Linked DNA regions of Homo sapiens. The protein of the gene in region 1 interacts with the protein of each later gene in a pairwise test. Each region holds a gene or a part of one and is shown in the gene's direction. Other genes may lie near its edges. The genes, in order: PPT1 and GPR75-ASB3.

Region 1 (15,592 bases):
GTTCTGTTTTTTTTGGGAGGCAGGGCCTTTGAGATTCAGTTCCCTTTAGGGAGGTTGAAATTCATTTGCCTTTCTTCCCTTAAGTTCTTTCCCTCTCCTAGTGTTGAAACACACAGGATAAGCTCGGCAGGTTGCTGACTGGGCGAGGTGGAAATTCACAGCTGCTGTCTTAATGAGGGAAGCTTTCCTGATGGATCAGTCTGGGGGTGGATTTTTCTCTAGAGATTTACCTAAAAGAGAGATACAGTAGGCACTGAGTATGTCCCAGACACAAACATGGTTTGGTAGGTTCTGGTAAACTAGATGGCTCAGTTTATATTTGACTCATCTGGAGAGTCTTTTGGTTTTTTGTTTTGAAACAGTTTGAAGGGAAAAACAAACCAAACAAAAAACAACACAGAATAGTATATAGCAGAACGACCCAGAATTTGCAGTTTCTTATTTTGTCTTGGCTTTCTCTGACTAGAAGCCTCTCACCTATGTGATGGACACCTATGGAGTGTGGTGTAAACTCATAGTTGTACCTGTATGCCATGCTCAGTGGCATGTCAGTCAGATAGGATGGTAAGAAAAGCCTATAGAAGGCCGGGCGTGGTGGCTCACGCCTGTAATCCCAGCACTTTGGGAGGCCGAGGTGGGCAGATCACTTGAGGTCAGGAGTTCGAGACCAGCCTGGCCAGCATAGTGAAACCCTGTCTCTACTAAAAATACAAAATTAGCTGGATGTGGTGGCGATCACCTGTAATCCCAGCTACTCTGGAGGCTGAGGCAGGAGAATCGCTTGAACCTGGGAGGCAGAGGTTACAGTGAGCTGAGATGGTGCCACTGCACTCTGGCCTCGGTGACAGAGCGAGACTCCATCTCAAAAAAAAAAAAAAAAAAAAAAGGAAAAGAAAAGGCTGTGTAAGCAATCCCGTGACTGGGTATATACCCAAAGGAAAACAAATTGTCCTGCCAAAAAGACACTTGCACTCGTGTTTATTGCAGCACTGTTCACCATAGCAAAGACATGAAATCAACCTAGGTGCCCATCAGCGGTAGACTGGATAGAGAAAATGTGGTACATATACACCATGGAATATTACACAGTCATAAAAAAGAATGAAATCCTGTTCTTTGCAGCAACATGGATGCAGCTGGAGGCCGTTATCCTAAGCAAATGAACACAGAAACAGAAGACCAAATATCACATGTTCTCACTTATAAGTGGGAGCTAAACATTGGGTACACGTGAATATAAAGATGGGAACAATAGACACTGGAGACTCCAAAAGCTGGGAGGGAGAGGCTAGGGCTGAAAAACTTCCTGTTGGGCACTGTGTTCACTATCTGGGTGAAAGGATCAACAGAACCCCAAACCTCAGCATCACACAATATACCCTTATAACAAAACTACACATGTACCCCCCTGAATCTAAAATAAAATATTTTGTTTTTTAGAAAAAAAGAAAAAAAAAAGCTGTACAGGTATATCCTGGTCAGGAAGCTGGAAAACAGCCCATACCCATGGGGAAGAAACACAGTGGCACAGGGTCAGGGAGACCAGAAAACAGGAAGGCTTTACTCCCTCTGCTGGTGTCTGATGGTAATGACCTTAGGTGTTGCTGGCCTTTCTTTCAGGGTATCAATGAGTCCTACAAGAAAAACCTGATGGCCCTGAAGAAGTTTGTGATGGTGAAATTCCTCAATGATTCCATTGTGGACCCTGTAGATTCGGAGGTGAGACACTACTTAGGCCACATGCCAGGAGAGTAAATGGCATTAAAATAGGGCTGCTGGCCGGGCACGGTGGCTCATGCCTGTAATCCCAGCACTCTGGGAGGCCAAGGCGGGTGGATCACCTGAGGTCAGGAGTTCAAGACCAGCCTGGCCAACTTGGTGAAACCCCATCGCTACTCAAAATACAAAAAGAAATTAGCCGGGTATGGTGACAGCCATCTGTAATCCCAGCTGCTTGGGAAGCTGAGGCAGGAGAATTACTTGAACCCAGGAGGCAGAGCTTGCAGTGAGCCAAGATCGTGCCACTGCACCCCAGCCTGGGTGACAGAGCGAGACTCTGTCTCAAAAAGAACATAAAATGAAATTGAAATGAAATGAAAAAATACAGCTGCCTGCTGGGGAAAAAACCTTCAGTCCCTTCCACCAACTTTTGTATAAAACAGTTCTTCACCTGAGGTCCATAAATGGGACACTGAAGATTGTAATCAATCCCCCAACCCCAAAATTCTATGCAAAATTATGTAATTACATTCTCTGGGGAAGGATCTATAATTTTAATCCATTTTCCAGAGATCAGAGACCCAAAAAATGTTCAGAATCACTAGCCCAAAATATATAAATTCCTAAGCTTGGCCTCCAAGGTCTGCCTTGATCTGGCTTCACCCCATTTTCCAGCCTAATCTGCCTTGTCTGCACGCTTCATACACTCTTGATCAAGCCATATTGTACTACTTGTGCTTTTTCTCTCGTATGCCTTGGTTCATATATTTCTGTCTCTAGAATGCCCTTCCTTGGCTTCTCCACCTGACAATTTCTATTCGTCTGTCAAGGCAAGGATGCCATCCCCATTCCAAGCAGAATGTGATCGCTTTTTTAGAATCATCAGCCTCTGTTAAAACACTCATCACGTTATGTCACACCACCAGGGATTGGCCGATTGTGGCCCACAGGCCCAGTCCATCCTGCTACCCGTTTTGGTGCTACCCACGAGTAACACCAAACACTAACATAAAAGAATGTTTTTAACATTTTTTAATGGTTGGGGGAAAGAATTGGACATATAAAGATTATGTAAAATTTATTTAGACATATCAAGTATTTGGACATATAAAGATTATGTAAAATTTAAATTTCAGTGTCCTTATTGGAACAGTTTTAGTTACTTTTTACATACTGTCTGTGGCTGCATTTGTTACAGTGGCAGCAATGAGTAGTTACAACCATATGGCCCTTAAAGCCTAAAATATTTTGTATCTGGCCTTTACAAAAACGTTTGCTGACCTCTGTACTCAACAGTGAATTGTTTCCGTGCCTTGCAAGACTGGGAGCTTTTTGGAAACAGATTATGTATTCATCCTTGAATGTCTAGAGCTCAGCACAGGAATTTTTCACATTTATTGCTTAATAATTTTAGGAAGCAGAAATTCTGGGGAAGTGGAAAGCGGCCTCTCAGAAAGATTAACTCATCCCTCGGGCTCCACCCTTAAGAAGAGATGACTCAGACGCACCCTATCCATTTTTCCTTCTTCCTACAGCTTTATGATGTTCACTTTGTTGGCAGTTTTAGCTTCTAACCAGTCTCAAATTATTTTGGCAGTATGTGCTGTGTGTCATATCTGAGCTTCTTTCCTTTGCTTCTTCTGCAGTGGTTTGGATTTTACAGAAGTGGCCAAGCCAAGGAAACCATTCCCTTACAGGAGACCTCCCTGTACACACAGGTAACTGGCAGGGAGTCTATCTTGGGAGGTTGGTGTTTTTTCAGCTCCCAGTTCCTGAAGCTGCTATGTTCTTTGGTGCTGGAGCCCTTTCCTTTACACCTCAGAGCACTAGGTACTCCTGAAACACCTGACTCATGTCCAATATGGGTGAAGCTTGTTAGGCTCTTGATTATGTGCTCTAGCTTATTAGGCACTGGGTTACAAAAATCCACTACATCCTGAAACCTTATGGTTTCCAAACAACAAGAGAAACCTCATGTCTGATTCCCTTCTTTTGATAAAAAGGTTTTAAAACTAGCTGCCTTGGCTGAGGTACAGTCTGCTACAAATCCAGGAAGCCTCCATGCATGATGAGGGGCATTCCTTTTTTTTTCTTTGAGACGGGGTCTCGCTCTGTCACCCAGGCTGGAGTGCAGTGGAGCAATCTTGGCTCACTGCAACCCCTGCCTCCCAGATTCAAGCAATTCTCCTGCCTCAGCCCCCTTAGTAGCTGGGATTACAGGTGTGTGCCATCACACCTGGCTAATTTTTGTATTTTTAGGAGAGATGGAGTTTCACCATGTTGGCCAGGCTGGTCTTGAACTCCTGACCTCAGGTGATCCACCCACCTCAGCCTCCCAAAGTGCTGGGATTACAGGCGTGAGCCAGTGCGCCTGGCCAAGGGACATTACTTTTAAACATTAATAGATGTGAAATCCTGTTTCTAAATTACGCACTGACAAGGGAGGCTCCTGCAGGAGGTTGAGTGGGACTAGAGTTTTGAATTTTGTTTAGCAGTAGGTCCTGTATCTTAAGCAGAAGTTGCAGTAATTTGCCACCTCCAGTTCTGGGGCCTTCTACACTTTAAGGATTTTTTTTTTTTTTTTTTTTTTTTTTTTTTTTTGAGACAGTCTTGCTTTGTCACCCAGGCTGGAGTGCAATGGTGTGATCTCAGCTCACTGCAGCCTCCACCTCCTGGGTTCAAGCGATTATCCTGCCTCAGCCTCACTAGTAGCTGGGATTACAGGCACACGCCACCATGCCTAATACTTTGTTTTGTTAGTAGAGACGGGGTTTCACCATGTTGGCCAGGCTGGTCTTCAACTCCTGACCTCAGGTGATCCACCTGCCTCAGCCTTCAAGAGTGCTGGGATTACAGGTGTGAGCCACCACGCCCAGCCCTAAGGATTTTATATTGGAGACAGACTCTCCAAAATGCTAAGTACTACATCTGAACCAATCACCGTCTACTAGAATTCCTCCATGTTATTTCAGAGGTCATTTGTCTCCTCTTGGCTTGGCTTTTCTTTTGCACTGGGTGCCTCAACTTGGGTGGTGAGGTAAAAAGGGAAGCTAGAATCTGATTTGAGAAAAAAAAAAAAAAAGGCTTGAGAAATTACAGCTAAGAACTTCCTTACTGTGAAAACTCAAAATGATGTTGGCCACGGCAGAAGCACCATTCTGGCACTGTCGTAACTGCTTATCTTCCCAACCAGAGGTTGTTCTCCAGCATCTAGGCTATGGGTAATGACATTTTCAACTCCAGAATATGAAAGTGTCCAGGGTTTGTTACCTAACGGTTGGATATGGTTTTTCTGTTTTGTTCTTTTGAGACAGTTTTGCTCATTGCCCAGGCTGGAGTGCAATGGCATGATCTCAGCTCACTGCAACCTCCGCCTCCCGGGTTCAAGCGAATTCTCCTGTCTCAGCCTCCCAAGTAGCTAGGATTACAGGTGCCCGCCACCATGCCCAGCTAATTTTTGTATTTTTAGTAGAGACAAAGTGTCATCATATTGGTCAGGCTGGTCTTGAACTCCTGACCACAGGTGATCCGCCTGCCTTGGCCATCCAAAGTGCTGGGATTATAGGCGTGAGCCACCGCGCCTGTCCTGGGTTGGATGTTTTTTAAGTTACCTAGCTAATGTTCTGTCTTTGGCTCAGTCCCACTTACCTATGGCATTCTGAGGCAGTGTCGTCTATGGCTTGCCCACCTATAGGTAGTCCTCTGACTCTGAGCTTTTCAAAAATCAGAATCTAGAACACTGTATAGAGCAATCTCAATTGCATATCTATTTTTAATACTTAGAAAAAACTGGCCGGGTGTGGTGGCTCACGCCTGTAATCCCAGCACTTTGGGAGGCCGAGGCACGTGGATCACCTGAGGTCAGGAGATCAAGACCATCCTAGCTAACACAGTGAAACCCCATCTCTACTAAAAATACAAGAAATTACCCAGGCATGGTGGCATGCGCCTGTAATTCCAGCTACTCATGAGGCAGAGGCAGGAGAATCGCTTGAGCCAGAGAAGTGGAGGTTGCAGTGAGCCGAGATCGCACCACTGCACTCCAGCCTAAGCAACCGAGCAAGACTCCGTCTTGAAAGAAAGAAAGAGAAAGAGAGACAGAGAGAGAGAGAGGAAGAAGAAGAAGAAGCGGGGGGGACAGGAGGAGGGGGAGGAGAGAAGAAAGAAAAGAAAGGAAGAAAGAGAAAGAAAGAAAAAGAAAAAAGAGAAAGAAAAAGAAGTAGGAGATATTCTTTTTGGCATTTTTGAAAATACACCTCAATTTTAATACTCAGGACAAACTGCATTTTGAAAATATATCTCAAGTTAACGTACTTACCATTTTACTCCAAAACTTCATTAAGCTTTTTAATTAATTATGGCCTTTCCTTCTGCAGGACCGCCTGGGGCTAAAGGAAATGGACAATGCAGGACAGCTAGTGTTTCTGGCTACAGAAGGGGACCATCTTCAGTTGTCTGAAGAATGGTTTTATGCCCACATCATACCATTCCTTGGATGAAACCCGTATAGTTCACAATAGAGCTCAGGGAGCCCCTAACTCTTCCAAACCACATGGGAGACAGTTTCCTTCATGCCCAAGCCTGAGCTCAGATCCAGCTTGCAACTAATCCTTCTATCATCTAACATGCCCTACTTGGAAAGATCTAAGATCTGAATCTTATCCTTTGCCATCTTCTGTTACCATATGGTGTTGAATGCAAGTTTAATTACCATGGAGATTGTTTTACAAACTTTTGATGTGGTCAAGTTCAGTTTTAGAAAAGGGAGTCTGTTCCAGATCAGTGCCAGAACTGTGCCCAGGCCCAAAGGAGACAACTAACTAAAGTAGTGAGATAGATTCTAAGGGCAAACATTTTTCCAAGTCTTGCCATATTTCAAGCAAAGAGGTGCCCAGGCCTGAGGTACTCACATAAATGCTTTGTTTTGCTGGTGATTTAACCAGTGCTTGGAAAAATCTTGCTTGGCTATTTCTGCATCATTTCTTAAGGCTGCCTTCCTCTCTCAGTACGTTGCCCTCTGTGCTATCATCTTATCATCAATTATTAGACAAATCCCACTGGCCTACAGTCTTGCTTCTGCAGCACCCACTTTGTCTCCTCAGGTAGTGATGAATTAGTTGCTGTCACAAAAGGAGGGAAGTAGCACCCAAATTAAGTTGCTTAAGAGAGGAAATGTACATCTTGTATAACTTAGGGAGCGAAGAAAATGTAGGCGCGAAAGTGAAAAGTGAGGCAGCTAGTTCTTCCTATTCCATTCTCGACCAACCTGCCCTTTCTTAATATGACTAGTGGTCTTGATGCTAGAGTCAACTTACTCTGTTGCTGGCTTTAGCAGAGAATAGGAGGAACCATATGAAAAAGATCAGGCTTTCTGACTTCCATCCCCAAAACACATTTACCAGCATACTCCAAACTGTTTCTGATGTGTTCCATGAGAAAAGGATTGTTTGCTCAAAAAGCTTGGAAAATACTACACACTCCCTTTCTCCTTCTGGAGATCAACCCACATTAGAGTGTCTAAGGACTCCTGAGAATTCCTGTTACAGTAAACAAAACTAACGTAATCTACCATTTCCTACACTATTTGAGCATGGAAATCATAGTCCCCACTCTGTGAAAACTTAACGCTTTTTGGAAGACATTTCTGTAGCATGTCAGTTTGGAGAAATGATGAGCTACGCCTTGATGAAAGAACCGTGTTGGTGCTGCTAAGTTTAGCCATTATGGTTTTTCCTTTCTCTCTCTTAAGCCTTATTCTTCAACTAAAAGATGAGGATTAAGAGCAAGAAGTTGGGGGGGATGTGAAAATAATTTTATGAGGTTGTCTAAAATAAAGAGTAGTTTCTTATCCTTGGTGTTTTCAGTATTTTTTGCATTTCTGTACAGCCAATATCACAGGTAAACAACTAAGCAAGTTTGGTATTAACTTTATTCTATTTTCTGTATAACTTTAAGTACATAAAGGTTTATTTCCACAGGCCTCAGGAAATGGGTAGAAATCACAGGACAATCTCTCTTCCCACCAAAAAAAAGTTGCATATTTTGGTAAGTGTTTGTCCTAGAGGGAAAAACAACTGAAATTTACATTAGCAGTGCTGTGCAAGATTCTTACATAATTCAAGACCTAAAACCAGCCTGCAGTGGAGGTTTCAGTCCTCTGTTCAGGTGCTTAGACAGAAGCCATAAGCTGATGAGCATGACAGGGAAAAGGAGGCAGTGAAGACAGGTGACAGGCACCTGGCAGGGAAGAAGGATTCAGGAATGCCAGACTCCTTGAAATCATGTGGGTTTTTTTTTTTTTTTTTTTCCTTTTAAAGTCATCTCTATAGGAAGGTGCTGGGCAGGGATCCCAGAGAAAGAAAGGGTCCAAGACTCCATTAACTGCCCTGGATGAAGGGCACTGCTACAGCAGCTAGTACCAGAGACTCTCCTATCTCACGGTTGAGGCAGACCCAGGATAGAATAGAGAATAAAAGGAATGCTTATAGGAAACAATTTTGTATGGAATGCTAGATGGCCAAGCCTCAGCCTTTGGTCCAGTGCAACCCTTGCCTCGCTTGTCAACAGTGAAAAATTAGTTTGGTTAGAAGAACCATCTGGAAACACACCAGCTTCTGCTACCTTCATGCTCATTGTTAAAAAAAGATTAACCAGTGTGAACATTCTGATCTGTTAATTCCAGGGACTGTTTTCTTTCCAATGGACTGTTTGTTGGTAGAATAACCCCCAAAAGCTCAAAGCTAAAATGCATCATCAGTCCTAGTCGGCAGTTCCTTAAGAATGGACTGGCGGCGTGGTTGAGCTGATATGGAAAAGCTGCACCTTCCTGCAGAAGATCAACTGACCTGCTATCCCACCCCAAATTTCAGCCTGAGGTATATTTCAGTGAAGGCAGGTAGCTGTGCTTCTCAGAGCAGAGAAGCAGTTTTAAGAGCAAAAAGGTAGAGGAAATCTAGAAAAGAACCGTCTTGATACAGATTTATCCCATGGTGTGAAGGGAGGGCAAAGAACCCAGTGGCACTTCGCTTATCCAGCAATTTCTGTCACTGTGGTGACCAACTTCTGCCCGTTCCATAGGGTCTTGAACTGCTCAGGAACTGGGAATTCATTCTGCAAATAAAGAAGAGACAGCAGGTTTAAATCTGAGCTAAAGAACAGCTGGGGCTAAATCTCACACATTTCTCCCAATGCTTGCTTCCACTTAACCCCAGGAGCACGGTACAATGTAGCAAGAGACAAACCCACAGAGCCATGCTATGTTCTAGTGTTCAGCGATCTTGGACAGACTATTAAGTCTATGGGGTGTAAATAACAGTACATATGGCTTTATAGCACCAGCCTGACAAGGTGCCATGGCTCATCCCCATTATTTTTTGCTACCTTGAGCTCCACTTAGGCAGAAAGCACCTACCTTTGGGGCTCCACTACATGGGACTACCTCATTTCTGTGTACTTTTGGTGTGCATTATTGGGTTTTTACCTGCTCAGTGCAGAATGTTCATAAAATAGCTTTCTTCAATGCCAGAAATCTTCAGTCCCTTCTGTTTTTAACATCATACTAAAGAGATCAAGAAACTTACAAAGTCACCGCCTTCTGTAGGAATGAGGACATTCATCTCGGAAGATTTGGCACTGACTATTTCACAATCCAGGGAATTCTTGCTCAGGTAAGCATGGCAGCCATCTGTTTTGTTGATGGATATGGTTGGCACTTTACCCATTACCTGCAGAGTAAACAAAGAGAACTGAGTCCCAGTGGTTGGGAAGGACAACAGTAAGTCGCAGGAAAAGGTTTCCTGTTTCACGTGACTCAGCAACTACATGAAAAGCTCACAGATGCGCAAGACACTGGATACTCGGGTGGGTTGGGATGGGTCCTGAAAAGAACTTGCTTGAAGAGCCAACCCTTCTTCTGCCACGTCCAAAGCAGCTCAGCTTACAGACTTTGTAGAATCAGATTCCCACCAAAGCAACATCTGTGGGTCTACCATGTCTCTTTGAATTAATTCCTCAGGGACAAAAAGAAGGAGCCAAAATATCGAGTTACCTGAACTTTGACATCCTTACTGTTGATTATCTCCACAATGCCCACCACGTCATCGAATACCAGGCCAAGTTTCTTACAGTTATCTAGGAGAAGAAAGGGAGTGTGTCAACGTGTAACTTTAAAGGAAAGTAATATACATTTAGGAATCTTTAAGGATAGGGTAGGTAAAATGGTATTAGCCTTCTCGGGCTCTGGGACGGGGCTTGCGTGGGACAGCGACAAAGACTCACCTACTGTAATGGAGTTAATTTTGCCCTTGATTTGCAATGTCGTGTTGACACACTTGTATATGTAAGCCACCTGTTTCAGCTCTGTGTCCTCAATCACCAGGTTGGAAACATTTTCCTGATTTTCCTGTTAGAGAGAGATCCCAGGATTCTCATCACAAAGCACACACCGAACAAAAAATAACCAGGCTATCCCAAACTTTTTGTTCTTGCAATTGAAGCCAGAACTCTGCCCTCATCTAGCTAAGCTCCATTTAACCTCCTGTTCCTACTCCTTTTCCCCGGGAGGCGGAGGTTGCGGTAAGCCGAAATCGCGCCACTGCACTCCAGCCTGGGCGACAAAGTGAAACTCCATCTCAAAAAAATAAAATAATAAAAATACCTGCCCCTGTCTAGGTATTTTTAACTCACCACTCTCCACTTCTTGCCCTCCAGTTCAAGTACAGCTGGCTCCTTCTTTGTGGCTCGTTTGGGGGATGGGCTGGTTTGGGGTTTAGGTGCAGAGAATGGTTTGGGGCCACTGCGTACTGGACCACTCTGAGCCTTCAGGGCAGGGTTCTTGTGAGTCTTCATGTCATCAGATACATGTTTCAGGGCTGTAAGAACAACAGCTACCTTGTTCCTGTCCTTCATACCAGACCTTTGAGCTGCTATCGTCATGTTAAACATCCTTAACAGAAAATTCAAAGCCAAAACCAGAGCCTTTGAGATGTTCTCTTGCAAGCAGTTTTGGAAAAGTACTTTTATCATTTCTCTTCTCCCCAAGATTAAATTATATGGTTCCATTAACAACAACATGGAATGTGTGTATATTGTGGGTGAGGATAAGGATATGTAAATCCTTATCCTCTATGTCTAGAAAGACATATCAAATGTATGTGCACAAATATATAATTTTTAAAGCAATAAAGAAAAATGAGTGGTAGTAAAGAAAATTTGGTAAAAGGAAAAGAAAAAAATACCCTCACTCCCCACAGCTAACCCTACTTCCCCCACCTCCTCAGTCAGTGTTGGCATTTGCAACTCTACAATATTGTTTTCTACATATATTTGGTTTTGTTGGTTATAATCATACAGATTGTTAACAAATTTAGTTCAACTATTGACACTTAAAAACTTTCTCATGTTAACCTGTAGTTTAATATCTTTCTAGGCCAGGCGCTGTGGCTCATGCCTGTAATCCCACACTCTGGGAGGCCAAGGCAGGCGGATCACCTGAAGTTAGGAGTTCAAAACCAGCCTGGCTACCATGGTGTATTTTTAGTCTCTACTAAAAGTACAAAAAAATTAGCCGGGTGTGGTGGCAGGTGCTGTAGTCCCAGCTATTTAGGAGGCTGAGGCAGGAGAACTGCTTGAACCTGGGAGGCAGAGATTGCAGTGAGCCAAGATCACGCCACTGCACTCCAGCCTGAGCAACAAAGTGAGACTCCCATCTCAAAAAAAATAAAATAAAATAAAAAATAAAAGTAAAAATATATTTCTTTTATGTTTTAAGGGAAAAATAATTCATCATCTCCCACAGCAGGCTGACACACGCCTCGCTTTGAACATGGCCAGATCTATGTTAACTGTATAACAAATACTGAATGGCCTTTTTATCTCCACCATTCCTTGTGGTTGTAATTTACATACTAGATTTTTTTTTTCTTAAACATTACATGGTTCACTGTAGAAAAACATGTAATGGTGGCACAACATTTCATCAAGAGGCCGGGCGTGGTGGCTCACACCTGTAATCCCAGCACTTTGGGAGGCCGAGGTGGGCAGATCACCTGAGGTCAGGAGTTTGAGACCAGGCTGACCAACATGGAGAAACCCCATCTCTACTAAAAATACAAAAAAAAAAAATTAGCCAGGCATGGTGACGCATGGCTGTAATCCCAGGTACTCGGGAGGCTGAGGCAGGAGAATTGCTTGAACCTGGGAGGTGGAGGTTGCGGTGAGCCGAGATCGCGCCATTGCACTCCAGGCTGGGAAACGAGCAAAACTCCGTCTCAAAAAAAATAAAAAAATAAAAAACATTTCATCAAGAGGACATGTGGTAGTTAGCCATTTCTCTTACAGTTGGATTTAGGTTGTTACACCATTTTTAGCTACTATGATCATAGATTCCTAGAAGTGGCTGGACAACTCAGACTTCCACCAGCTGTGTTAAGGGTATCTACTTTATACCAACATTAGGTCACTCTCATGCAAATTTTCCATGTAACCAGTATGCATCTTCTGAGGAAGTTAACTCCCTAACACAATGCCTTCCCAGAGGCCATGTGGTGCCACGGAAAAAGCTCTGGGGAAAACCGCCAGCTCTGTGCCTTGGCACAAGAGGGTCCTCTATATATGCTACCTAATATTAAGTCACTTTCCCATGGGGCAGATGGCTTCCTCCAACTGTGATCATCATTTTCAATTTCCATTTAAGCCAGCTTTGCCGTCCCTTAAAGGAACAGGACACACCAAACGAGTCTCCACCACACAAGCCAGGGTTGTAGTTTACAGACGGTTCTGGTTGGTGGGGTCTGGCCCACACAACTTGTTGTACCTACTGTTCGTGTCCAAGTGCTCACTCACCATGTGTAATGCTCTCCCCCTGATTAATCTGCGCGAACAGTGATGAGCGGGAAGCAGACTCATATGAGCATGAAATGGTAGAGACTGGGGGAGGAGGGGGGCATGGTGGAGGGGGAGGAGGACATGATCCGGCAGAGGGTCCAGATGGCAGTCCGCTCAGTTCTTTTGCCACAGGCCCCTGGAACAATAAGTGCAGGTAACATCATCATCCTCTCTGCTCCCCTCTGTACCATTCCCAGTAGTGCCCTACATGGGCCAGTGCACATGGGGTCCCCACCACAGCCTTTGAGGCAATGATTAATGTGTCCTACCCATACCCAACTTGGCTTTATGCCTTCTCACCCTTTCCCAAGGATCCAGCTCTCAGTTCTATTTCTTGACCATCACATTTTGCCTTTGAACTCACCTGATTCCAGCTCTAAAAACTATTTCCACAAATCTACTTGACATCTTCCTTAGTGTGTTACCAGTACCTCTGATTCAACAGATTCAAAACTGATTTCATCATTTCCTGCCGCTCCTCTCCCTGTACAATCATCCCCTTGTCCCTATTTCAGTGAAAGATGTTACTATCCAAGACTGACTATTCAATCTTCTTTGAGGATTCCAACTTCTTCGACCTTATCAAATCTCTATTATCTTGGTGCTATCTCCTGCAAATGTTTTTCTACTATCCCCCAAACACCATGACCACTTTCATAATCTGAGCATGAGTCCTTATCCCTAACCTATACACTGAGACTCTTTTAAAGACAAATTGAATCATTATCACTCCCTTGCTCAAATACCTCATCCCAAAGTCTCAGCCTACCTTCCTTTCCAGCCTTTTCTCCTAAAATTCTGATCATTTCCCCTTATTGAAGCCAGAGATGACCAATCTCTACATTTACTCTGCATGTATTTTGTTTAAGCTGTGCCTTTTGTAGTATCCCACTTCTCACTGCCCTATACTACTTTCAAGTCTCACAGAAGAGTATATACCTTCAAAGTACAATCTCTTCTAGTGAGAAGCACTCTTCTCTTCCTCATACTCTAGTCTGTATCTTTATTATAGCATTTGGCTTGGTGATTTGTATTGGGGTTTTGCATTCTTATTTTTAAGCTCCTTAAAGGCTGGGATAGTGTAACTCATTTGTGTGTGTCTCCTGCTCCAGCACCAATCACTGTCCCTAACATATTTATTGAAATTGAATACCACTGAATATTCCTTCTCCTCTGATCCTTGCTTCCTCTACTCTTTTTACCCTTTCTTTCTCCTCCTTTTCTTCCTCCCTTCCACTGAAAAAACTAGCATTCCCTCACAGACTTTGGTAGTGCTGAAGTCTAAGAAACCTGTGGACCCCATGCTGGAGAGAGAAAGTGGGAGGGAGGGAGGGAGGGAGGAAGGATTCACTAACCGTTTTGCTCCAGGCCAGTCCGGTGGTATGGAACTCCTTAATGTAAGCCTGCAGCTCTGTCCATATACTTAAATAAGCTTTGACCCAGTCTACATGCTTCTTATCCCTGGGAGGATTAAAGAAGAACTTGTCACAGGTGATCCGGGTACATAACAGTGGTGACTCCAGAACCCTTCTTTCCTATGGGCTCACATTCTCCTACCCGTGGTGTTTCTTAGGCTCCGCTCAATGGCAGCTTTTCTATCATCACCAGCTTCTATGTATATACAACCTAGTCTATTACCCTAATCAGACCAAACTCCACTAAGATAGAGACTCTGGATTCTATCTCTATCTCTCATAGCAATGTTTCTCAAACTGTTTTAAGTACCAAAACTTTTTTTTTTCTTTTGACCACTTGCTGCTTATTGAAACTTTTTTCAAAGTAGACCTTAAACACAATCTAATATGTAAAACTGATAAAAGCAGACATTCTGTGCATAAAACCATGGTAGAGAGGAGAGCTCTTAAGTATCACTGTGGAACTCTAAAGACTAAGAAACTTAACTGCCTTATGAGACAATGCCTTATGTCAAAATATGCCCACCCTGACCAAAAGCAAACTTAAAAACTTTCCCTTAGGGGGAAACAATCAGCCTTAAATTATAGAAATAGCATTGTGCCTACGGTTCAAGTCCCCTCTCTTCTTATGTATTAACTGGGAAGGTTATTTAGCCTAAGACCTAGTTTCCTCAACTGTAAAGTGATGGGATAATGGTGGGATATATCAAAACACTGTCATGCTTAATTCCATGTTGCTAGAAGGATAAGGAAGTGCCTGTTGTTCTGGGACACATTTCACTCACAGGAAGGTGTAGTTTTCCTTAAAAAGAGTAGTTAATAAATGTTTGTTGATTGATGAAGGATGGAAGAAAGGAAAGGCTTGTGTAGATATGCAACTTAATAAATTTTGCCTGCAATCATTCCAGCTCAAAACCAGCAATGGAGAAGTCAGAACTGGTAGACGTATGTGGTTAGACATGCAATGACTGCCCTACGTAATACCTGCATTGGCTAGGCAGCCTTACTCTCACTTTAACTGACTTCATGAAAAATTTCTATTAAGTCCTATTGAACCCTTTGCCATTGGGCCAGTAACAAATTCTCAACAAAGGAACAAAATCTTATATAAAGGGCATTAGTCCATGTTACTGCCAGCAAAACTTCCTAAACCCAGAAGGGTAAGGATCAGAAGACTAAAAGGGCCTCTACCAAAAAAGGAGAGAAAGCAGAAGTGGAAGCAGAAGTATTTCCTGCTTGCAAATGCAGCTGTGAGACAATATCTGTAAAGCTCTCCAGAAAGCAGCCCTGAGATAAAACCAGCACAGTGGCTAAGGGCAGCCCTCAGTAACTCCAAAGTGCTACTCCAGCAAGTAACCAAATGGGTTTATCCTTTACCCCTTGAGAAAAAGCTGAACTTGGCTGGGCACAGTGGCTCACACCTGTAATCCCAGCACTTTGGGGAGACCAAGGCAGGAGAATCATTAGAGACCAGCCTGGGAAACAGTGAGACCTCATCTCTACGAAAAAATTAGAAAATTAGCCAGGCATGGTGGAGCGTGCCTGAAGTCCCAGCTACTTGGAGGACTGAGGTG
Region 2 (15,592 bases), on another chromosome or scaffold:
ATGATTCTTATTAAGATACATTCCTTCAATGCCTAGTTTGTTGAGGGTTTTGTTTTGTTTGTTTTGTTTTTATCATGAAGGGATGTTGGGTTTTATGAAGGCTTTTCTCACATCTGTTGAGATGATCATATAGTTTTGGTTTTTAATTTTCTTTACGTGGTGAATCCCAATTATTCATTTGCATATATGGAACCAACCTTGTTTCTCAACAATGAAGCCTACTTGATCATGATGCATTAACTTTTTGATGTGTTGCTGGATTTAATTTGCTAATATTTTGTTGAGAATTTTTGTATCTATGTTCGTCAGCACTATTGGCCTGTACTTTTCTTTCTTCATTGTGTCTTTGCCAGATTTTTGTATTAGGGTGATGCTGGCTTTGTAGAACAAGTTAGGGAGGAGTCTCTCCTCCTTGATTTTTGGGAATGGTTTCAGTAGAATTGGTACTGGTTTTTCTTTGTATGTCTGGTAGAATTCGGCTGTGAATTCATGTGGTCCAGGACTTTTGGTTGGTAGGTTTTTTTTTTTTTTATTATGGATTCAGTTTTGGAACTTGATATTGGTCTATTTCAATTTCTTTCTGATTCAGTCTTGAGAGATTGTGTGATTTATCCATTTCCTCTAGATTTTCTCATTTGCGTGCATTGAGGTGTTCGTAATAGTCTCAGAGGATCTTGTGTATTTTTGTAGAATCTATTGTAATGTCAACTTTGTTGTTTCAGATTGTGCTTATTTGGACCTTCGCTCTTTTTTTTATCTAGCTAGCAGTCTGTCAATTTTGTTTATCCTTTCAAAGAACCAACTTTTGGTTTCATTGATCCTTTGTATGGATTTTTGGGTCTCAATTTCATTCAGTTCCACTCTGATTTTAATTATTTTTTTTCTTCTAATAGCTTTGGGGTTAGTTTGTTCTGTTTTTTCTTATTCCTCGAAGTGTGATATTGGATCATTAATTTGAGATCTTTCTTTCTGAGCTAGATGTTTAGCATTATAAACTTCTTAACACTTTTTGCTGCATTTTAATATGTTCTGTGTCTGTTTTTATTTATTTCAAAGAATTTTTTGATTTCTGCCATAATTTTATTGTTTACTTAAAAGTTATCCAAGAGCAAGTTTGTTTGTTTGTTTGTTTGATTTTGAGACAGAGTCTCACTCTATCGCCAGGCTGGAGTGCAGTGGCACCATCTAGGCTCACCGCAACCTCCGCCTCCCAGGTTCAAGCAATTCTCCTGCCTCAGTCTCCTGAGTAGCTGGGACTATAGGCACACACCACTATGTCTGGCTAATTTTTTTTTTTTTTTTTTTTTTTGTAGTTTAGTAGAGATGGGGTTTCACCACATTTCCAGGCTGGTCTCGAACTCTTGAGCTCAGGCAATCTGCCTGCCTTGGCCTCCCAAAATGCTAGGATTACAGGCGTGAACCACTGTGCCCAGCCAAGAGCAAGTTAATTTCTATGTAATTGTGTGGTTTTGGAAGATCTTCTTGGTATTGATTTCTATTTTTATTCTACTGTGGTCTGAGAGTATGGTTGGTATTAATTCAGTTTATTTATTTATTTATTTATTTATTTATTTATTTATTTATATTTCTGGAGACAGGGTCTTGCTCTGTACCCAGACTGGAGTGCAGTGGCATGATCTTGGCTCACTGCAACCTCCCCCTCCTGGTTCAAGCAATTCTCCTGCCTCAGCCTCCTGAGTACCTGGGATTACAGGCGCGCACCCCTGTGGCCAGCTAATTTTTTTGTATTTTTAGTAGAGATGGGGTTTCATCGTGTTGGCCAATTTGGTCTCAAACTCCTGACCTTCAAGTGATCTGCCCATCTCGGCCTCACAAGTGAATCAGTTTTTTAAATTTATTGAGATGTGCTTTTTGGCCGAGCATGTGGTCTGTCTTGGAGTATGTTATATGTGCTGTTGAGAAGAATATATATTCTGTGGTTGATGAGTGGAGTGTTCTTTAGATGTGTATTAGGTCCAATTGGTCAAATGTTGAATTTACACCCAGAATTTGTTTTTTAATTTTCTGCCTCAGTGATCTGTCTAATGCTGTCAATGGGATTTGACATCTCCCAACATTATTGCTATCTCTATAGATCTCTAAGAGCTTGTTTTATGAAACTGGATGCTTCAATGTTGGGTGTGTGTATATTTAGGATAGTTAAGTCTTCTCATTGAATTGAACCCTTTATCATTATGTAATTACCTTCTTTGTCCTTTTGTACTGTTGTTGGTTTTTTTATATATAATTTTTTCTTGAATAGAAATGGGGTCTCACTGTGTTGCTGTGAACCCCAAATATCTGAGAGAGATCTCAGTCAATTTAGGAAGTTTATTTTGCCAACATTAAGGGCATGTGCCTGTGACACAGCCTCAGGAGGTCCTGGCAACATATGCCCAAAGTGGTTGGGGCACAACTTGGTTTTATACGTTTTATACATGAGACATCAATCAACATATATAAGATATACATTGGTTCTGTCTGGAAAAGCGGGACAACTCAAAGTGGGGAGAGTATGTCCAGGTCATAGGTAGGTAGGAGACAAATGGTTGCCTTTTTTTTTTTTTTTGAGTTTCTGATTAGCCTTTCCAAAGGAGGCACTCAGATATGCACTTATCCCAGTGAGCAGAGGGATGACTTTGAGTTTGAGTTCTGTCTGTCCTTCGTCCACAGGGAAATTCCTTGTGAGGGAGGTACGTAACTTTTTCTAATCTTAGTAGCTATTTTTTAGGAATAGAATAGGAGGCAGGGTTGCGCTAAGCAGTTCCCAGCTTGACTTTTCCCTTTGGCTTAGTGATTGTGGGGGTCCCAAGATTTATTTTCCTTTCACATTGCCCTGGCTGGTCTTGAACTCCTGAGCTCAAGCGATCCTCCCCCCTTGTAAGAGTTAAAGAAAGAGGAAAGAAACACAAAAGATGGGTTGGCAGTTAAAGACAGGTTTACTTTAGATAAAACCTGAGAAGGGTTTCTGGCTGATTTCGATCAGGAGCACTTTCTCTTACAGGCTAAGTACATGAGTATATATTGGTTTTAGGGTGAGGGGGCTTATCACAAGCTTGGAGTGTTTATGTGTGGGGGAGAAGTTTATGGTGAGGTTGGAATGTCTCTGGGTGAAGGGGGGATTATCTTGGGGCTGACGTCTTTCTAGAAGGAAGGGAGTTATCTCGGGGCTGGCATCTTCCCAGCCAGAGCAGGGCAGCTAGCATGTCTCTGGTCGCAGAGGAGTTTGGCATGTTCCTGGTCGGAGATGCTTTTTTTGTTTATGATCATGCTGATCTTAGCCATTTAGGCTGATGCGCTTTGGATTTAGGAAGTTTTTGATTAAGGTGAATTGGAAAATAACAGTGCTTGTGCAAGATGGTGATACTCCTGCTCTGTCATACTTCGGCCTCTCAAAGCTCTGGGCTTATAGGCGTGAGCCACTGTGCCTGGCTCTGTTGTCTGATTTAAAGTCTGTTTTATCTGATATAAGAATATTGACCCCTGGTTGGGCGTGGTGGCTCACGCCTGTAATCCCAGCACTTTGGGAGGCCGAGGTGGGTGGATCACGAGGTCAAGAGATCAAGACCATCCTGGCCAACATGGTGAAACCCCGTCTCTATCTGCTAAAAATACAAAAATCAGCTGGGCGTGGTAGTGCATGCCTGTAGTCCCAGCTACTCGGGAGGCTGAGGCAGGAGAATTGCTTGAACCCAGGAGGCAGAGGTTGCAGTAAGCCGAGATCGCACCATTGCACTCCAGCCTGGCGACACGGCGAGACTCAGTCTCAAAAATAAAATAAAATAAAATAAAAAACTAGTGACCCCTGACCTTTTTTGTTTTCCATTTGGTTGATAAATCTTTTTTCAACCCTTTACTTTGAGCCTATGGGTGTTGTTACATGTGAGACGTGTCTCTTGAAGGCAGCAGATGGATGGGTCTTTTTTCTTTCTTTTTTTTTTTTTAATCCAAATTGCAGCTGTGTGCCTTTTAGGCAGGATGTTTCGTAAAAGGCGAAAGATTTGTATGATCTGAAGAGACCCTTTACATTCAAGGTTAATATTGATATGTGAGGTTTTGATCCTATTATTAAGTTGGTAGATGGTTGCTTTGCAGTTTCTATTGTATGATTGTATTATGGGGTCTTTGGGCTATGTACTTCAGTGTGTTTTTGTGGTATCAGTGTTGTTCTTTCATTTCCATGTTTAAAAGTCCCTTAAGGATCTCTGCTAAGACTGGTCTAGTGGTAACAAATTGTCTTATCGCTTGCTTGTCTGTAAAATATTTTATTTCTCCTTCGTTTGTGAAGCTTAGTTTGGTGGAATATGAAATTCTTGGTTGTAGTGTCCTCTCTTTAAGAATGCTGAAAATAGACCCCCAATCTCTCTTGCCTTGTAAGGTTTCTGCTGAGAAGTCCACTGTTCCTTTTGTATGTGATCTGACGTTTTTCTCTAGCTGCCTGTAAGATTTTTTCTTTAGTGTTAACCTTCAACAGTCTGGTGACTGTATGCCATGGTGATATTCACGTTCACAGAGAGTTCTCTGTATTGCTTCTATCTGGATGTCTTCCTCTCTGGCAAGATTAGGGAAATTTTCTTAAATTATGTCCTCAAATATGTTTTCCAGGTCATTTACTTTTTCTCCTTCTCTCTCAGGAATACCAATAATTCATAGATTTGGTTGCTTTACATTATCAAATATTTCTCAAAGCCTTTTTCATTAAAAATTTTTTATTTTTATTTTTATCTGACTGGGTTAGTTTGAAAGACTGATCTTCAAGCTCCAAAATTCTTCCTTCTGCTTGGCCTAGTCTATTAATAAAACTTGCAGTTATATTTTGAAATTCCTTAAGTGAGTTTTTCAATTCCAGAAGCTCTGATTGATTCCTTTTTAAGATGTTTATCTTAAGATGCCTTCATTTCCTGAATTGCTTTAGAAGTTTCTTTGTGTTTATTTTCAACCTTGTCTGGATCTTGTTGAGCTTCCTTGCAATCCTTGCTTTGAATTCTTTATCTGTCATTTCTGAGTTTCCATTTGGGTCAGGAACCATTGCGGGAACACGACTGTGATCCTTCAGTGGTGTCACTATATTTAGATTTTTCACAAATCCAAAATTCTTGGGGTAGTTCCTTTTCATCTGGAGATGTTCACACTTCTAATTTTTGTAATTATTTTCATGCAGGTGGGATTTTTTTCTTTTTCTTTCTTTCACTATAATATTATTGTTTTTCCCTTTCACATTTATGATTTTAAATATCAACTCAGAAACCTGTTGAAAGAGACCCTTTTTCTCTGATTGTAGGCATTATTTATCATGCAGTGGTTATGAAGAAAGAGATGTAATAGAGAGTATAGTCAATATTAGTTTTAAGGCGTGGCTCCCATATATGTCATATCTACTGATAATTTTTCATAAATCTTAGCCTGAATCAATTAGTGGCATAATTTGGATTTTATCTTTTTCAGCAGTTATCAGAAATATTATCCATGTTTGATAGTTTGCATTTTTCTTTTTAAATGTTTACTTATTGGGCCCCAGAATGCTTGTTGGAGGAGGGATTGGAATGAAATGTATCCTTCATTGAATAGGATTTTTGTTTTAGCTTAAAAATGAATTCTAAGATATGAATCACTTGTTTTCTTGCTGACGTAGAGGCAAGACCTTTTTATTTTTGATAGAGACAGGGTCTCACTATGTTGCCCAGGCTGGTCTCAAACACGTGGCCTCAAGCAATCCTCTGGCCACAGCTTCCTAAATTGCTGGGATTCCAGGCATGAGCTACCCTGTCAGTTTAGCGAAGACAATTTAAATGATTACCAAGAAGTTAGCAAAGTAAATATGTTTATATAACAACATCCAACATTCAGTGAAGAGGGAAAAGCTTACCGTGCTACGAAACCCTTTTATGGTAGTTCCTTTGAAATTTGTGTTGATTTTTTTAAGTATTAGGGTTATCTGTTAAATGTTTTATTTTGTACCCTTAGGTGCAAATGTCAATTGTCAAGCCTTGGACAAAGCTACACCCTTGTTCATTGCTGCTCAAGAGGGACACACAAAATGTGTGGAGCTTTTGCTCTCCAGTGGGGCAGATCCTGATCTTTACTGTAATGAGGACAGTTGGCAGTTACCTATTCATGCAGCTGCACAAATGGGCCATACAAAGTAAGTGTTAAAAACAGAAAATAAACATGGTCTCTTAATCAAAAGCTAATAAAGAATAAATCTGGGCTAGACCCTTCACCTCTAGGCAAAGTCTTTGATATTCTCTTCCCTACCAATCTGCTGGGTGAACAGATCTACCCCTAATCTGTCCTTCATGCTGTCTTTTGCTCCTACTATTCCTGCACTTTCATATTGTGAGGCAGAATTGCTACAGACTGGGTAGGCTCAGGGACTTTCTCGGGGTGTTGACTCTTCCCATTGATTTCTCTAGTTATGGCTGTATCCGCCGCCTCCTCCTCCCTAGTTTTATCCCAGGCATCTTTAAGCATCAATCTGATGAGGCCATCCATGTTACCTCTCTGACCCCAGAAAGCTTTTGAGTTTGTGATGCCTGTTGGAGTGTGTGCTAAGTAGTCCTCCCTGTCTTAAACCCTTTGACTGAACTTTTCTTGATCTAACCTCAAATTGGAGAGAGAGTAAATGGGGGTTCCAGGAATCTTAGAAGCTAGTAACTTGGTTATACCTGTGAGAATATGGCTACCTATCATAAATTGGCAGTCAATGATTTTTAGAAATATATGTGAGAATATGGCTACCTATCATAAATTGGCAGTCAATAATTTTTAGAAATACATGTTTAGAATCTTTAGAGCCATAATTCTATAATAGCACTTTTTATAGCTGCTATTAGTATTATTTAATTTAAAAAGTAATAGTAAAATATTCATTACTTAATTTAGTTTGTTTACATAGTAGGAAAACAGATTCTGCAATTTGGTCATTATGCCACTAGGTGACACAGTACTTTACTATTTCATTAATGATATTTGTAAGCATGTTTATGTCTTGTGGGAGAGTATAATTTTTCCCACCTACTTAAAAAAATTAAACACATTTATTAAAGTTAAGAGACATTAGACTATTTTAACAAAATACTTAGATTTAAAAATTTGATATTTTCCCCAATTCTTGATCATTTATTTAAACATAAGTGTTAGATATTGTACTCTGAACTTTAAATGGTACCAAAACTCTCCTGGGCATTTGTTCTCAATTTTGAGAATTCTCATTGTCACTGATGATTTTCTTTATAGCCTACTTCAAAGGTAACCCCTTTTGTGAGTGTAAGTTCTACTTAAATGTTATCTTAGACATACATTACATGAGGAAAAGTCACAAAGAGAAATGTAATACTATGAAAATACTTCAGAGTAGCCCTGTCTGTCTTTTCCCAGAAAGAAGGAATTTCCTGGCTTTAACTATACAGTTTTATTTTTAATTTTAGAAGGGTAGAATAGTCCTTTTTTCTTTCCAGTTGACTGCTAGAGGTAAGTTTACAAATAACCTAAGAACTTTTGTTTTAATTATTTTCTTAGAACTTTCTCTACCTAGGAGCCAGCTTCTTTATAAATCTGCCTCCATATTTAATGAGCTCACTTTTTTTTCAGATAATAGAATATTTTAGCACAAATTATAATTTCTTCCTGATGAAAACATTAGTCTTAATTTCATGCCAGTTATCATCTTTAAAAATTTTTACTAATTGGAAAAGAAAAACTAGTTGGTACTTTAAGAAGGAAAATAGTGCATTTTCTTGATGCCAGTTTATACTTAGTAGAATGATGTTTTAAATAATTTATTAAACCCTAAAATATCTAACATAAAATTTGAATTTTGGGGGTTAAGGTGGTGCTAGTAAGGTAATAAAATTAAAAGAGCACCTTTTCTGTTTACATATAGGAACATTAATTTTGTTTCAAATGTATTTAAAGACCTTTTTATTAAGCAATAATAAGTGTAACATTCTGGAGTAAATATATAGCATGTAATAGTTTAATGTTGTTGGTAGAAGGTACACCCTAGACAGAAATATTTCTTTAAATGAATCAGTTGGTAATTCTGAAAAAAATTGTGCTATAGAAATGTTGCCTACATTTATGCACATATACAAACACTAAATTCTCCTGAATTTGTGTATTTATAGAATCTTGGACTTGTTAATACCACTTACTAACCGGGCCTGTGACACTGGGCTAAACAAAGTAAGCCCTGTTTACTCAGCAGTGTTTGGGGGACATGAAGATTGCCTAGAAATATTACTCCGGAATGGCTACAGCCCAGACGCCCAGGCGTGCCTTGTTTTTGGATTCAGTTCTCCTGTGTGCATGGCTTTCCAAAAGGAGTATGTATATTTGCTATGTTTTTATTTTTTATTCTTTTTTGCTGTATGGAGATGTGTTTTGAAGTGACTTTCTTTCACGATGAAACTTAGTATCTCTGTTAGTGCTAAATTGCTATCTTGGAACACAAATAGGAAAAAAACTATGATGTTTCAGTCAAGCTGAAGCAGAAATGAGGTGATAATATCACATTGTTTTCCTTCCTTCTTTGGATCTGGATTATATTTTTAGTGTAGCAATCTTAGGGAATACGTACAATTTAAGTAGACGCAGAAATTTGCTGATATTTTTGGTCTTCAAAACAATTCAAGAATTAAAAATGGGGCTTTATCAAGTAAGGCAGTGACTGCTTCAGGTCATTTACCGTTTCAAATTTATAAGATATAAGCCTAAAAATTAAACTTTAGTTTTATAGATATTATTGTGTTTTTAATGTATTTGGTGGATAGCATTAAAAAAAATTTTTTTTTTTTGAGACAGGGTCTCACTCTGTGGCCCGGGCTGGAGTGCAGTGGCACCATCTTGACTCATTGCAACTTCTGCATCCCAGGCTCAGGTGATCCTCCCACCTCAGCCTCCAGAGTAGCTGGGTCTACAGGTGTACACCACCACTCCCAGCTAATGTTTTTATTTTTAGTAGAGATGGGGTTTCTCCATGTTGCCCAGGCTGGTCTTGAACTCCTGGGCTCAAGCAGTTCCCTTGCCTCGGCCTCCCAAAATGCTGGGATGTCAGGCATGAGCCACGATGCCTGGCTTTATATTATTTTTGGATGTGAGTCTAAATAATTAAGTTTTTAAACGCCCCCAAATTAATTATTTTTCTAATCTGTCATAATTCTGTGAAATAGACTAAGTGAAGAATTACTGCTGCCTTGTTAGTGTCTGGCCAGTAACTTTGTCTATAACACTCTTACAGTTTTAAAACACTAAGAATAAAGCTGTGTGTAAGAACAGCCATATTGAGTAATATCTGGTCATCCAATAATGGAATAAGTTATGAAGATAGATGCTATTGTGTTTAATGACACAGAAGAGGTTGCAGGCATACCTCAAATTGTATTGGCCTTCTTGAATTCACTATTATGAATCTCTATTTAATTTGAGTAGTTATCAAGAAATTATTTACTAAGCTTTTCAGCCTTTACTATCTCTTAACATTTGCCATGTAAAATTAGTAGTTCACTATAATTTGTTTCAAGTTTAAGCTTACACGTTTTAGTAGAGATAGGGTTTCACCAGCCTGGTCTCGAACTCCTGGCCTCAAGTGATCTGTCTGCCTCCAGCCTCCAAAAGTGATGGGATTATAGGTGTGAGCCACCCCATCCGGCCTCTTAAACTTATACATTTTAGTTTGAATATTTGGGTTTTGGTTAATCTGAGTATCTGGGGCCCACTTTATGTATAACTTTCATGATTTCATAGGATTTTCTTGTGTACCCCGTTAAGTTTTGTCTTTTTAAACAGAAGAGCCCTAATTACTTTAGTTGACCTTCAGTGAGGTTGCACTGATAACTTTTAGTTGCCTTTCTCTATCCCAAATCTTAAGTCCGTTACAGAACTGAACATTTCTTATTAGACCAGAATATAATGATTTTGGATTGCGCGCGCGCGCGCGCCTGTGTGTGTGTGTGTGTGTGTGTTCAATATGATGATGGTCTTTTTTGGCCTTCATCTTATCTTTTGGATGAACAATGTTTTTGGTCCTTCTGGTCACAGCAGCTAAGCTCACGCCTCATCACCTTATAAGTGTAGTTTGAATTAAGCCATATAATGTAGTACCCCTGTTAACTCTGAAACACCTTAAAATTAATGATATTCCTTGGGAGCTGGGCAGTATGTTTCATGCCTTCTGTAGATTCGGATAAATGAAATTAGGTGGGAAAGATCTTAAATAGGTTTCTGGATTTTCCAAGATTAGTTGAAATTTTAGGGGGCAGACCCTTTTTTCTCCTTTGATTTCTACAAAATCAGTCAGTAACACTAATTGACCATTTTGTTATGTAGAGAGCACTAAATAGATCCTGTTAAACTTACTGAGGAAGCTGAAACATACACACGATCCTTTAGGAATTTAAAACCTAATGGGAAAAACAGTATTTAGTGGCATTTACTTCACTATCTTCTGCTGTCTTTGGCAAAGAAGCGTTTTTAATGTATTTTTTTTTTTTTGTATTTTTTTATAGAGACTCATGGAAGGGAAGGTTCCTATTTTTTTCTGCTGTGTCTGGGATAACTGCAAATAGGAGCTATTATCTCATTCTTGAATAGTGATATAAATGATTTTTTTTCTTTTCCTTTCACAAGTACTCCAAAGTTGTATTTTTAAGGAACTCCACAGTTTGGTTTGCTTTTTATGTCTCAGTTACTCTGTAGAATTTTTTTCTGTGTAAACTTCAGTGATGCTAAGAAGTTCTTAACATGCAGTGGAGTAATTCCACTACAGCCTCTCTCTTTCTCTCTAATGACTACAAAAAACTGTGGTCAAAATTCAAAAAGAAACTACCTGAGGACTCTCAAAGGAACAAAAGCAGATAGATTATGAAAGAGAGTGGTAACTTGGTGAAGTGACCCACATGAAAACGAATTTTCCCATTTCTTTTTCCTTTTTTTTTTTGAGACTGTCTCGCTGTGTTGCCCAGACTGGAGTACAGTGGCGCGATCTGGGCTTACTGCAACCTCCATCTCCCGAGTTCAAGTGATTCTCTTGTCTCAGCCACCCAAGTAGCTGGGATTGTAGGCATGTGCCACCATGCTCAGCTACTTTTTGTATTTTAAAAGAGATGGGATTTCACCATGTTGGCCAGGGTGGTCTCAAACTTCTGACCTCAAGTGATCTGCCTGCCTCGGACTCCCAAAGTGCTGGCATGAGTCACCGCGCCTGGCCTTCTTTTTCTTCTGCTGTGTTGCCCTGAGGGCCAACCCTGATCTGGAGCTGAGTAGCACCAGTGGCACCAGCAGCTAATATCAGTCAGTAACATTAATTGACCAGTTGTTTAATATAGAGAGCACTAAATAGATCCTGTTAAACTTACTGAGGAAGCTGAAACATAGACACAATAGAAAGCCTGTTTTTCTGGTCAGAGGAATCAGGTAAATGGAACCCTGTGGGCCAGAGAATGGTAGGGAATCTTGGAGAAGAGAGAGCTTGGAGAAGCGGATACCCTAATTGTGCATATGAATTTGCATATTCCTGACTTACCCCAAGCTTTAAATGCACAAGATAGACCCAAATTGTTTTTTATTTTGTTTTGTTTTTGAGACAGGATCTCATTCTGTTGCCCACACAGAGTGCAGTGATATGATCATGACTCACTGCAGCCTCGACTTCCCTGGGCTCAGGCAATTATCCTGCCTCAGCCTCTTGAGTAGCTGGGACTACGGTTGTGCGCCACCATGCCTGGAATTTTTTTTTTTTGTATTTTTTGTAGAGACAGGGTTTGCCGTGTTGCCTAGGCTGGTCTTGAACTCCGAGCTCAGGTGATCTCCCTGCCTTGGCCTCTCAAAGTGCTGGGATTACAGGCGTGAGCCACAGCACCCAGCCAACCCAAAATGTTGAAAGTAAGATTTGAACTATCATCAGAGTCTCAGGCTAGACCCTGAGTGGCACATTCATGGGTCCAAGCTTAAAGCAGGAAAGTCAAGGCTTTTGAGAACTGAGCTGACGTTGGAACCACTGTATAAGGTAAAACAGAAATTGCAGTTTGAACCTAACTAGGTTATATGCTTGCTGAAATAAACAAACCAAAAAGCTAGTGTTCTTCAAAGGATTATAACAAGACCCAGGACTCAGAATTTATACAGCATAACATTCACAATGTCCAGGAGACAACCTAAAATTATTTGACATATGAAGAACTGATAAAACATTACTAAATCTCATGGGAAAAAGCAATTAATAGATGCCAGTCCTGAGATGGTCCAGATATTAGAAATATCAGATAATTGAAAGCAGCTCTTATAATGGTGCTTCATGAGGCTAACACACTGGAAAAAATGAAAAGGTAGAAATTCTCAGCTGAGTAGTAGAAACTATAAAAAAGACGGAAAAATACAATAATCTGCAATGAAAAATTTACTACATGGACTCCATAGCCAAATGAAAGATATAGGAAAGAGTAAATTAACTTGAAAGTAAACCATTAGAAATTATTAACAAAGGGGAAGACATGCTGTCTGGCAGCTGGAGCGTGCAGACTGGCGTGGCACAGCCATGCAGCTTCTGGAGTTTCTGTTGGTTAGAGATTCAGGAGTAGCTTGGTGGGCAGTTCAGGCTTGGAGGTTTCTCTTATAGTTGCATTAAATATCAGATGAAGCTACAGTCATTAGCAAGCTTGACAGGAGCCAGGGGATCAACTTCCACAGAGGCTCACTGACATGGATCACTCATATGGCTGGGTGTTGGCAGGAAACCTCGGTTTCTCTCTATAAAAGCCTCCCCACAGGACGGCTGCAGTATCCTCATGGCATGGTAGCTGATTCCCTCAGAGGAAGAGGTCTAAGAGAGAACAAGACGGAAGTCACAGTGACCTGGTTCATTGAAATTATGGCTGTCACCTCCGCAGATCACATACACAAGCCCTGATTCAATATGGAAAGACTGTACAAAAGCACAAATAGGAGGAGGAAAGGATGATTGGGGGCCATCTTGGAGGCTAGCTGTCTCACACATTATCTCTGAAATTGCTGTTTTTTAATTTTGAAATTTTCAAACATATGTAAATGTAAAGAAATTGGTACAGTGAACTCCCATAGACCCATCATTCATATTCAGTAATGATCAAGGAAATGCCATCATTTTATTTTGTACAAATATCCCTGAGAAACATGCTCTTTCCACCTCCAGCCTTCATCTAAACATCTTATACTAACTTTCTTTAGATTTCAGTGTTCCAGGCTCTCTCCTTCCCTCCTCTTTCTGGTATGTTTATGGGGTAGAGGCAAGACCAATGCAAAGAAAGAAGGCCCTTTATGCTGGGCATCTAGGCTTTTTCAGACATCCTCTGAAACCTAGGCAGAGTCTCCCAAACCTCAACTCTTAAATTCTGTGCACCCACAGGGTTAACACCATGACCATGTGGAAGCCACCATTGTGACTTGTACCCTCTGAAACAGTGGCCTGAGCTGTACCTGGGCCCCTTTGAGCCATAGCAGGAGTGGCTAGGATGCAGGGACTAGTGTCCCAAGGCTGTGGAGGACAGTGGGGCACTGGGCCTGGCCCATGAAACCATTCAGTCCTCCTAGGCCTCTGGGCCTGTGATGGGTAAGGCTGCTGGGAAGGTCTCTGAAATGCCTTTGAGGCCTTCCACCACCCCCTGGTGGTTTTGGCTATTAGCACTTGCCTCCTTTTTACTTAATGCAAATTTCTGAAGTCTGCTTGAATTCCTTCCCTGAAAATAGGCTTTTCTTTTCTACCATTTGCCAGGCTGCAAATTTTCCAAACTTTTATACTCTGCTTCTCCTTTAAATGTAAGTTCCAACATTAGGTCCTGTCTTTGCTCATGCATATGAGCATAGGCTCTTACAAGCAGACAGGCTGCTTTGCTGCTTAGAAGTTTCTTCCACCAGGTACCCTAAATCATCACTCTCAAGTTCAAAGTTCTACAGGTCCCCAGAGCAGGGGCACAGTGCATTCAGGTTCTTTGCTAAGGCATAACAAAAGTGACCTTTGCTCACTTCCCAGTAAGTTCTGCTTTTCCATCTGAGACCTTGTCAGCCCAGCCTTTACTTTTATTCACTATCAGCACTTTGGTGACAACCATTTAACCAGTCTTCAGGGAGTTCCAAACTTTCCCTCATCTTTCTGTCTTCTTCAGAGCCCTCCAAACTCTTCCACTCTCTGCCATTACCAAGTTCCCAAGTTGCTTCCACATTTTTAGGTATCTTTATAGCAATGCCCCACTCTTCAGTGCCAATTTTCTGTATTAGTTCGTTCTTGCATTGCTATAAAGAAATACCTGAGACTGGGTAATTTATAAAGAAAAAGGTTTAATTGGCCCATAGTTCCACAGGTTGTACAGGAACCATGATGTTGGTGTCTGCTCAGCTTTTGGAGACACTTCAGGAAACATAATCATGGCAGAAGGCGAAGTGAGAGCAGGCTGCTTCTTACATGGCAGGAGCAGGAGCAAGAGAGTGAGTGTGGGAGGTGCCACACACTTTTAAACAACTAGCTCTCACAAGAACTCCCTACTGTGAGGACACTACCGAGGGGGATGGTGCTAAACCATTTATGAGAAACCCATCCCCATGATCCAGTCACCTCCCACCAAGCCCCACCTTCAACACTGGGGATTACAATTCATCATGAGATTTGGGTGGGGACACAGATCCAAACCACATCAGTAGATCTAGGGTGGGGACTGATATTCTGCATTTCTTTCTTTTTCTTTTCTTTTCTTTCTTTCTTTCTTTTTTTTTTTTTTTTGAGACAGAGTCTGACTCTATCACCCAGGCTGGAGGGCAGTGACACCATCTCGGCTCACTGCAACCACCACCTCCCGAGTTTATGCAATTCTCGTGCGTCAGCCTCCTGAATAGCTGGGATTACAGGTATGTGACACCATACCCGGCTAATTTTTGTATTTTTAGTAGAGATGGGGTTTCACCATGTTGGCCAAGCTGGTCTATAACTCGTAAGCTCAAGTGATCTGCCCCCCTTCACCTCCCAAAAGTGTTGGGATTACAGGCGTGAGCCACTGTGCCCGGCATACTCTGCATTTCTTTCTTTTTTTTTTTTTTTGAGACGGAGTCTCGCTGTGTCGCCCAGGCTGGAGTGCAGTGGTGCGATCTCAGCTCACTGCAAGCTCTGCCTCCTGGGTTCATGCCATTCTCCACCTCAGCCTCCCGAGTAGCTGGGACTACAGGTGCCCGCCATCACGCGCAGATAATTTTGTTTTTGTATTTTTAGTAGAGATGGGGTTTCACCATGTTAGCTAGGATGGTCTCCAACTCCTGAGCTCCAGTGATCTGCCCGCCTCAGCCTCCCAAAAGTGCTGGGATTACAGGCGTGAGCCACCACACCTGGCCCATACTCTGCATTTCTAACAAGCTAACAAGATGGTGCCAATGCTGCTGATCCACAGACCACACTAAGTAGCAAGAGTCTAGAGCTGTGCTGCCCAAATTGGTAGCCACCAGCCACATGTGGCTATTTAAATTAATGAAAATTAAGTAGCGTTATAAATTACTTCTTCAGTTTCCCTAGCCACCCTTCAAATGCTCAAGAGTCATGTGTGGCTAGCTACCCTACCGAATAGCACATCATCACAGA

Evidence for each region.
Region 2: the proteins of PPT1 (region 1) and GPR75-ASB3 interact in binary tests that used the Homo sapiens proteins (3 or more experiments, as listed by UniProt).

The regions. Positions count from the first base shown.
Region 1 is NC_000001.11:40,064,687-40,080,278, reverse strand, and holds the end of PPT1 (palmitoyl-protein thioesterase 1 isoform 1 precursor), read left to right. Parts: intron 1-1,620; coding exon 1,621-1,719; intron 1,720-3,365; coding exon 3,366-3,437; intron 3,438-6,095; coding exon 6,096-6,218; 3' UTR 6,219-7,567; downstream 7,568-15,592. Other genes in the region: CAP1 (adenylyl cyclase-associated protein 1), read right to left, coding at 8,746-8,829, 9,300-9,443, 9,767-9,849, 9,997-10,120, 10,405-10,589, 12,562-12,739, 13,959-14,064. UniProt on the Homo sapiens protein: Has thioesterase activity against fatty acid thioesters with 14 -18 carbons, including palmitoyl-CoA, S-palmitoyl-N-acetylcysteamine, and palmitoylated proteins. In contrast to PPT2, PPT1 can hydrolyze palmitoylated proteins and palmitoylcysteine.
Region 2 is NC_000002.12:53,707,116-53,722,707, reverse strand, and holds part of GPR75-ASB3 (GPR75-ASB3 protein), read left to right. Parts: intron 1-5,964; coding exon 5,965-6,142; intron 6,143-8,126; coding exon 8,127-8,324; intron 8,325-15,592. Other genes in the region: ASB3 (ankyrin repeat and SOCS box protein 3), read left to right, coding at 5,965-6,142, 8,127-8,324. UniProt on the Homo sapiens protein: Probable substrate-recognition component of a SCF-like ECS (Elongin-Cullin-SOCS-box protein) E3 ubiquitin-protein ligase complex which mediates the ubiquitination and subsequent proteasomal degradation of target proteins. Recognizes TNFRSF1B.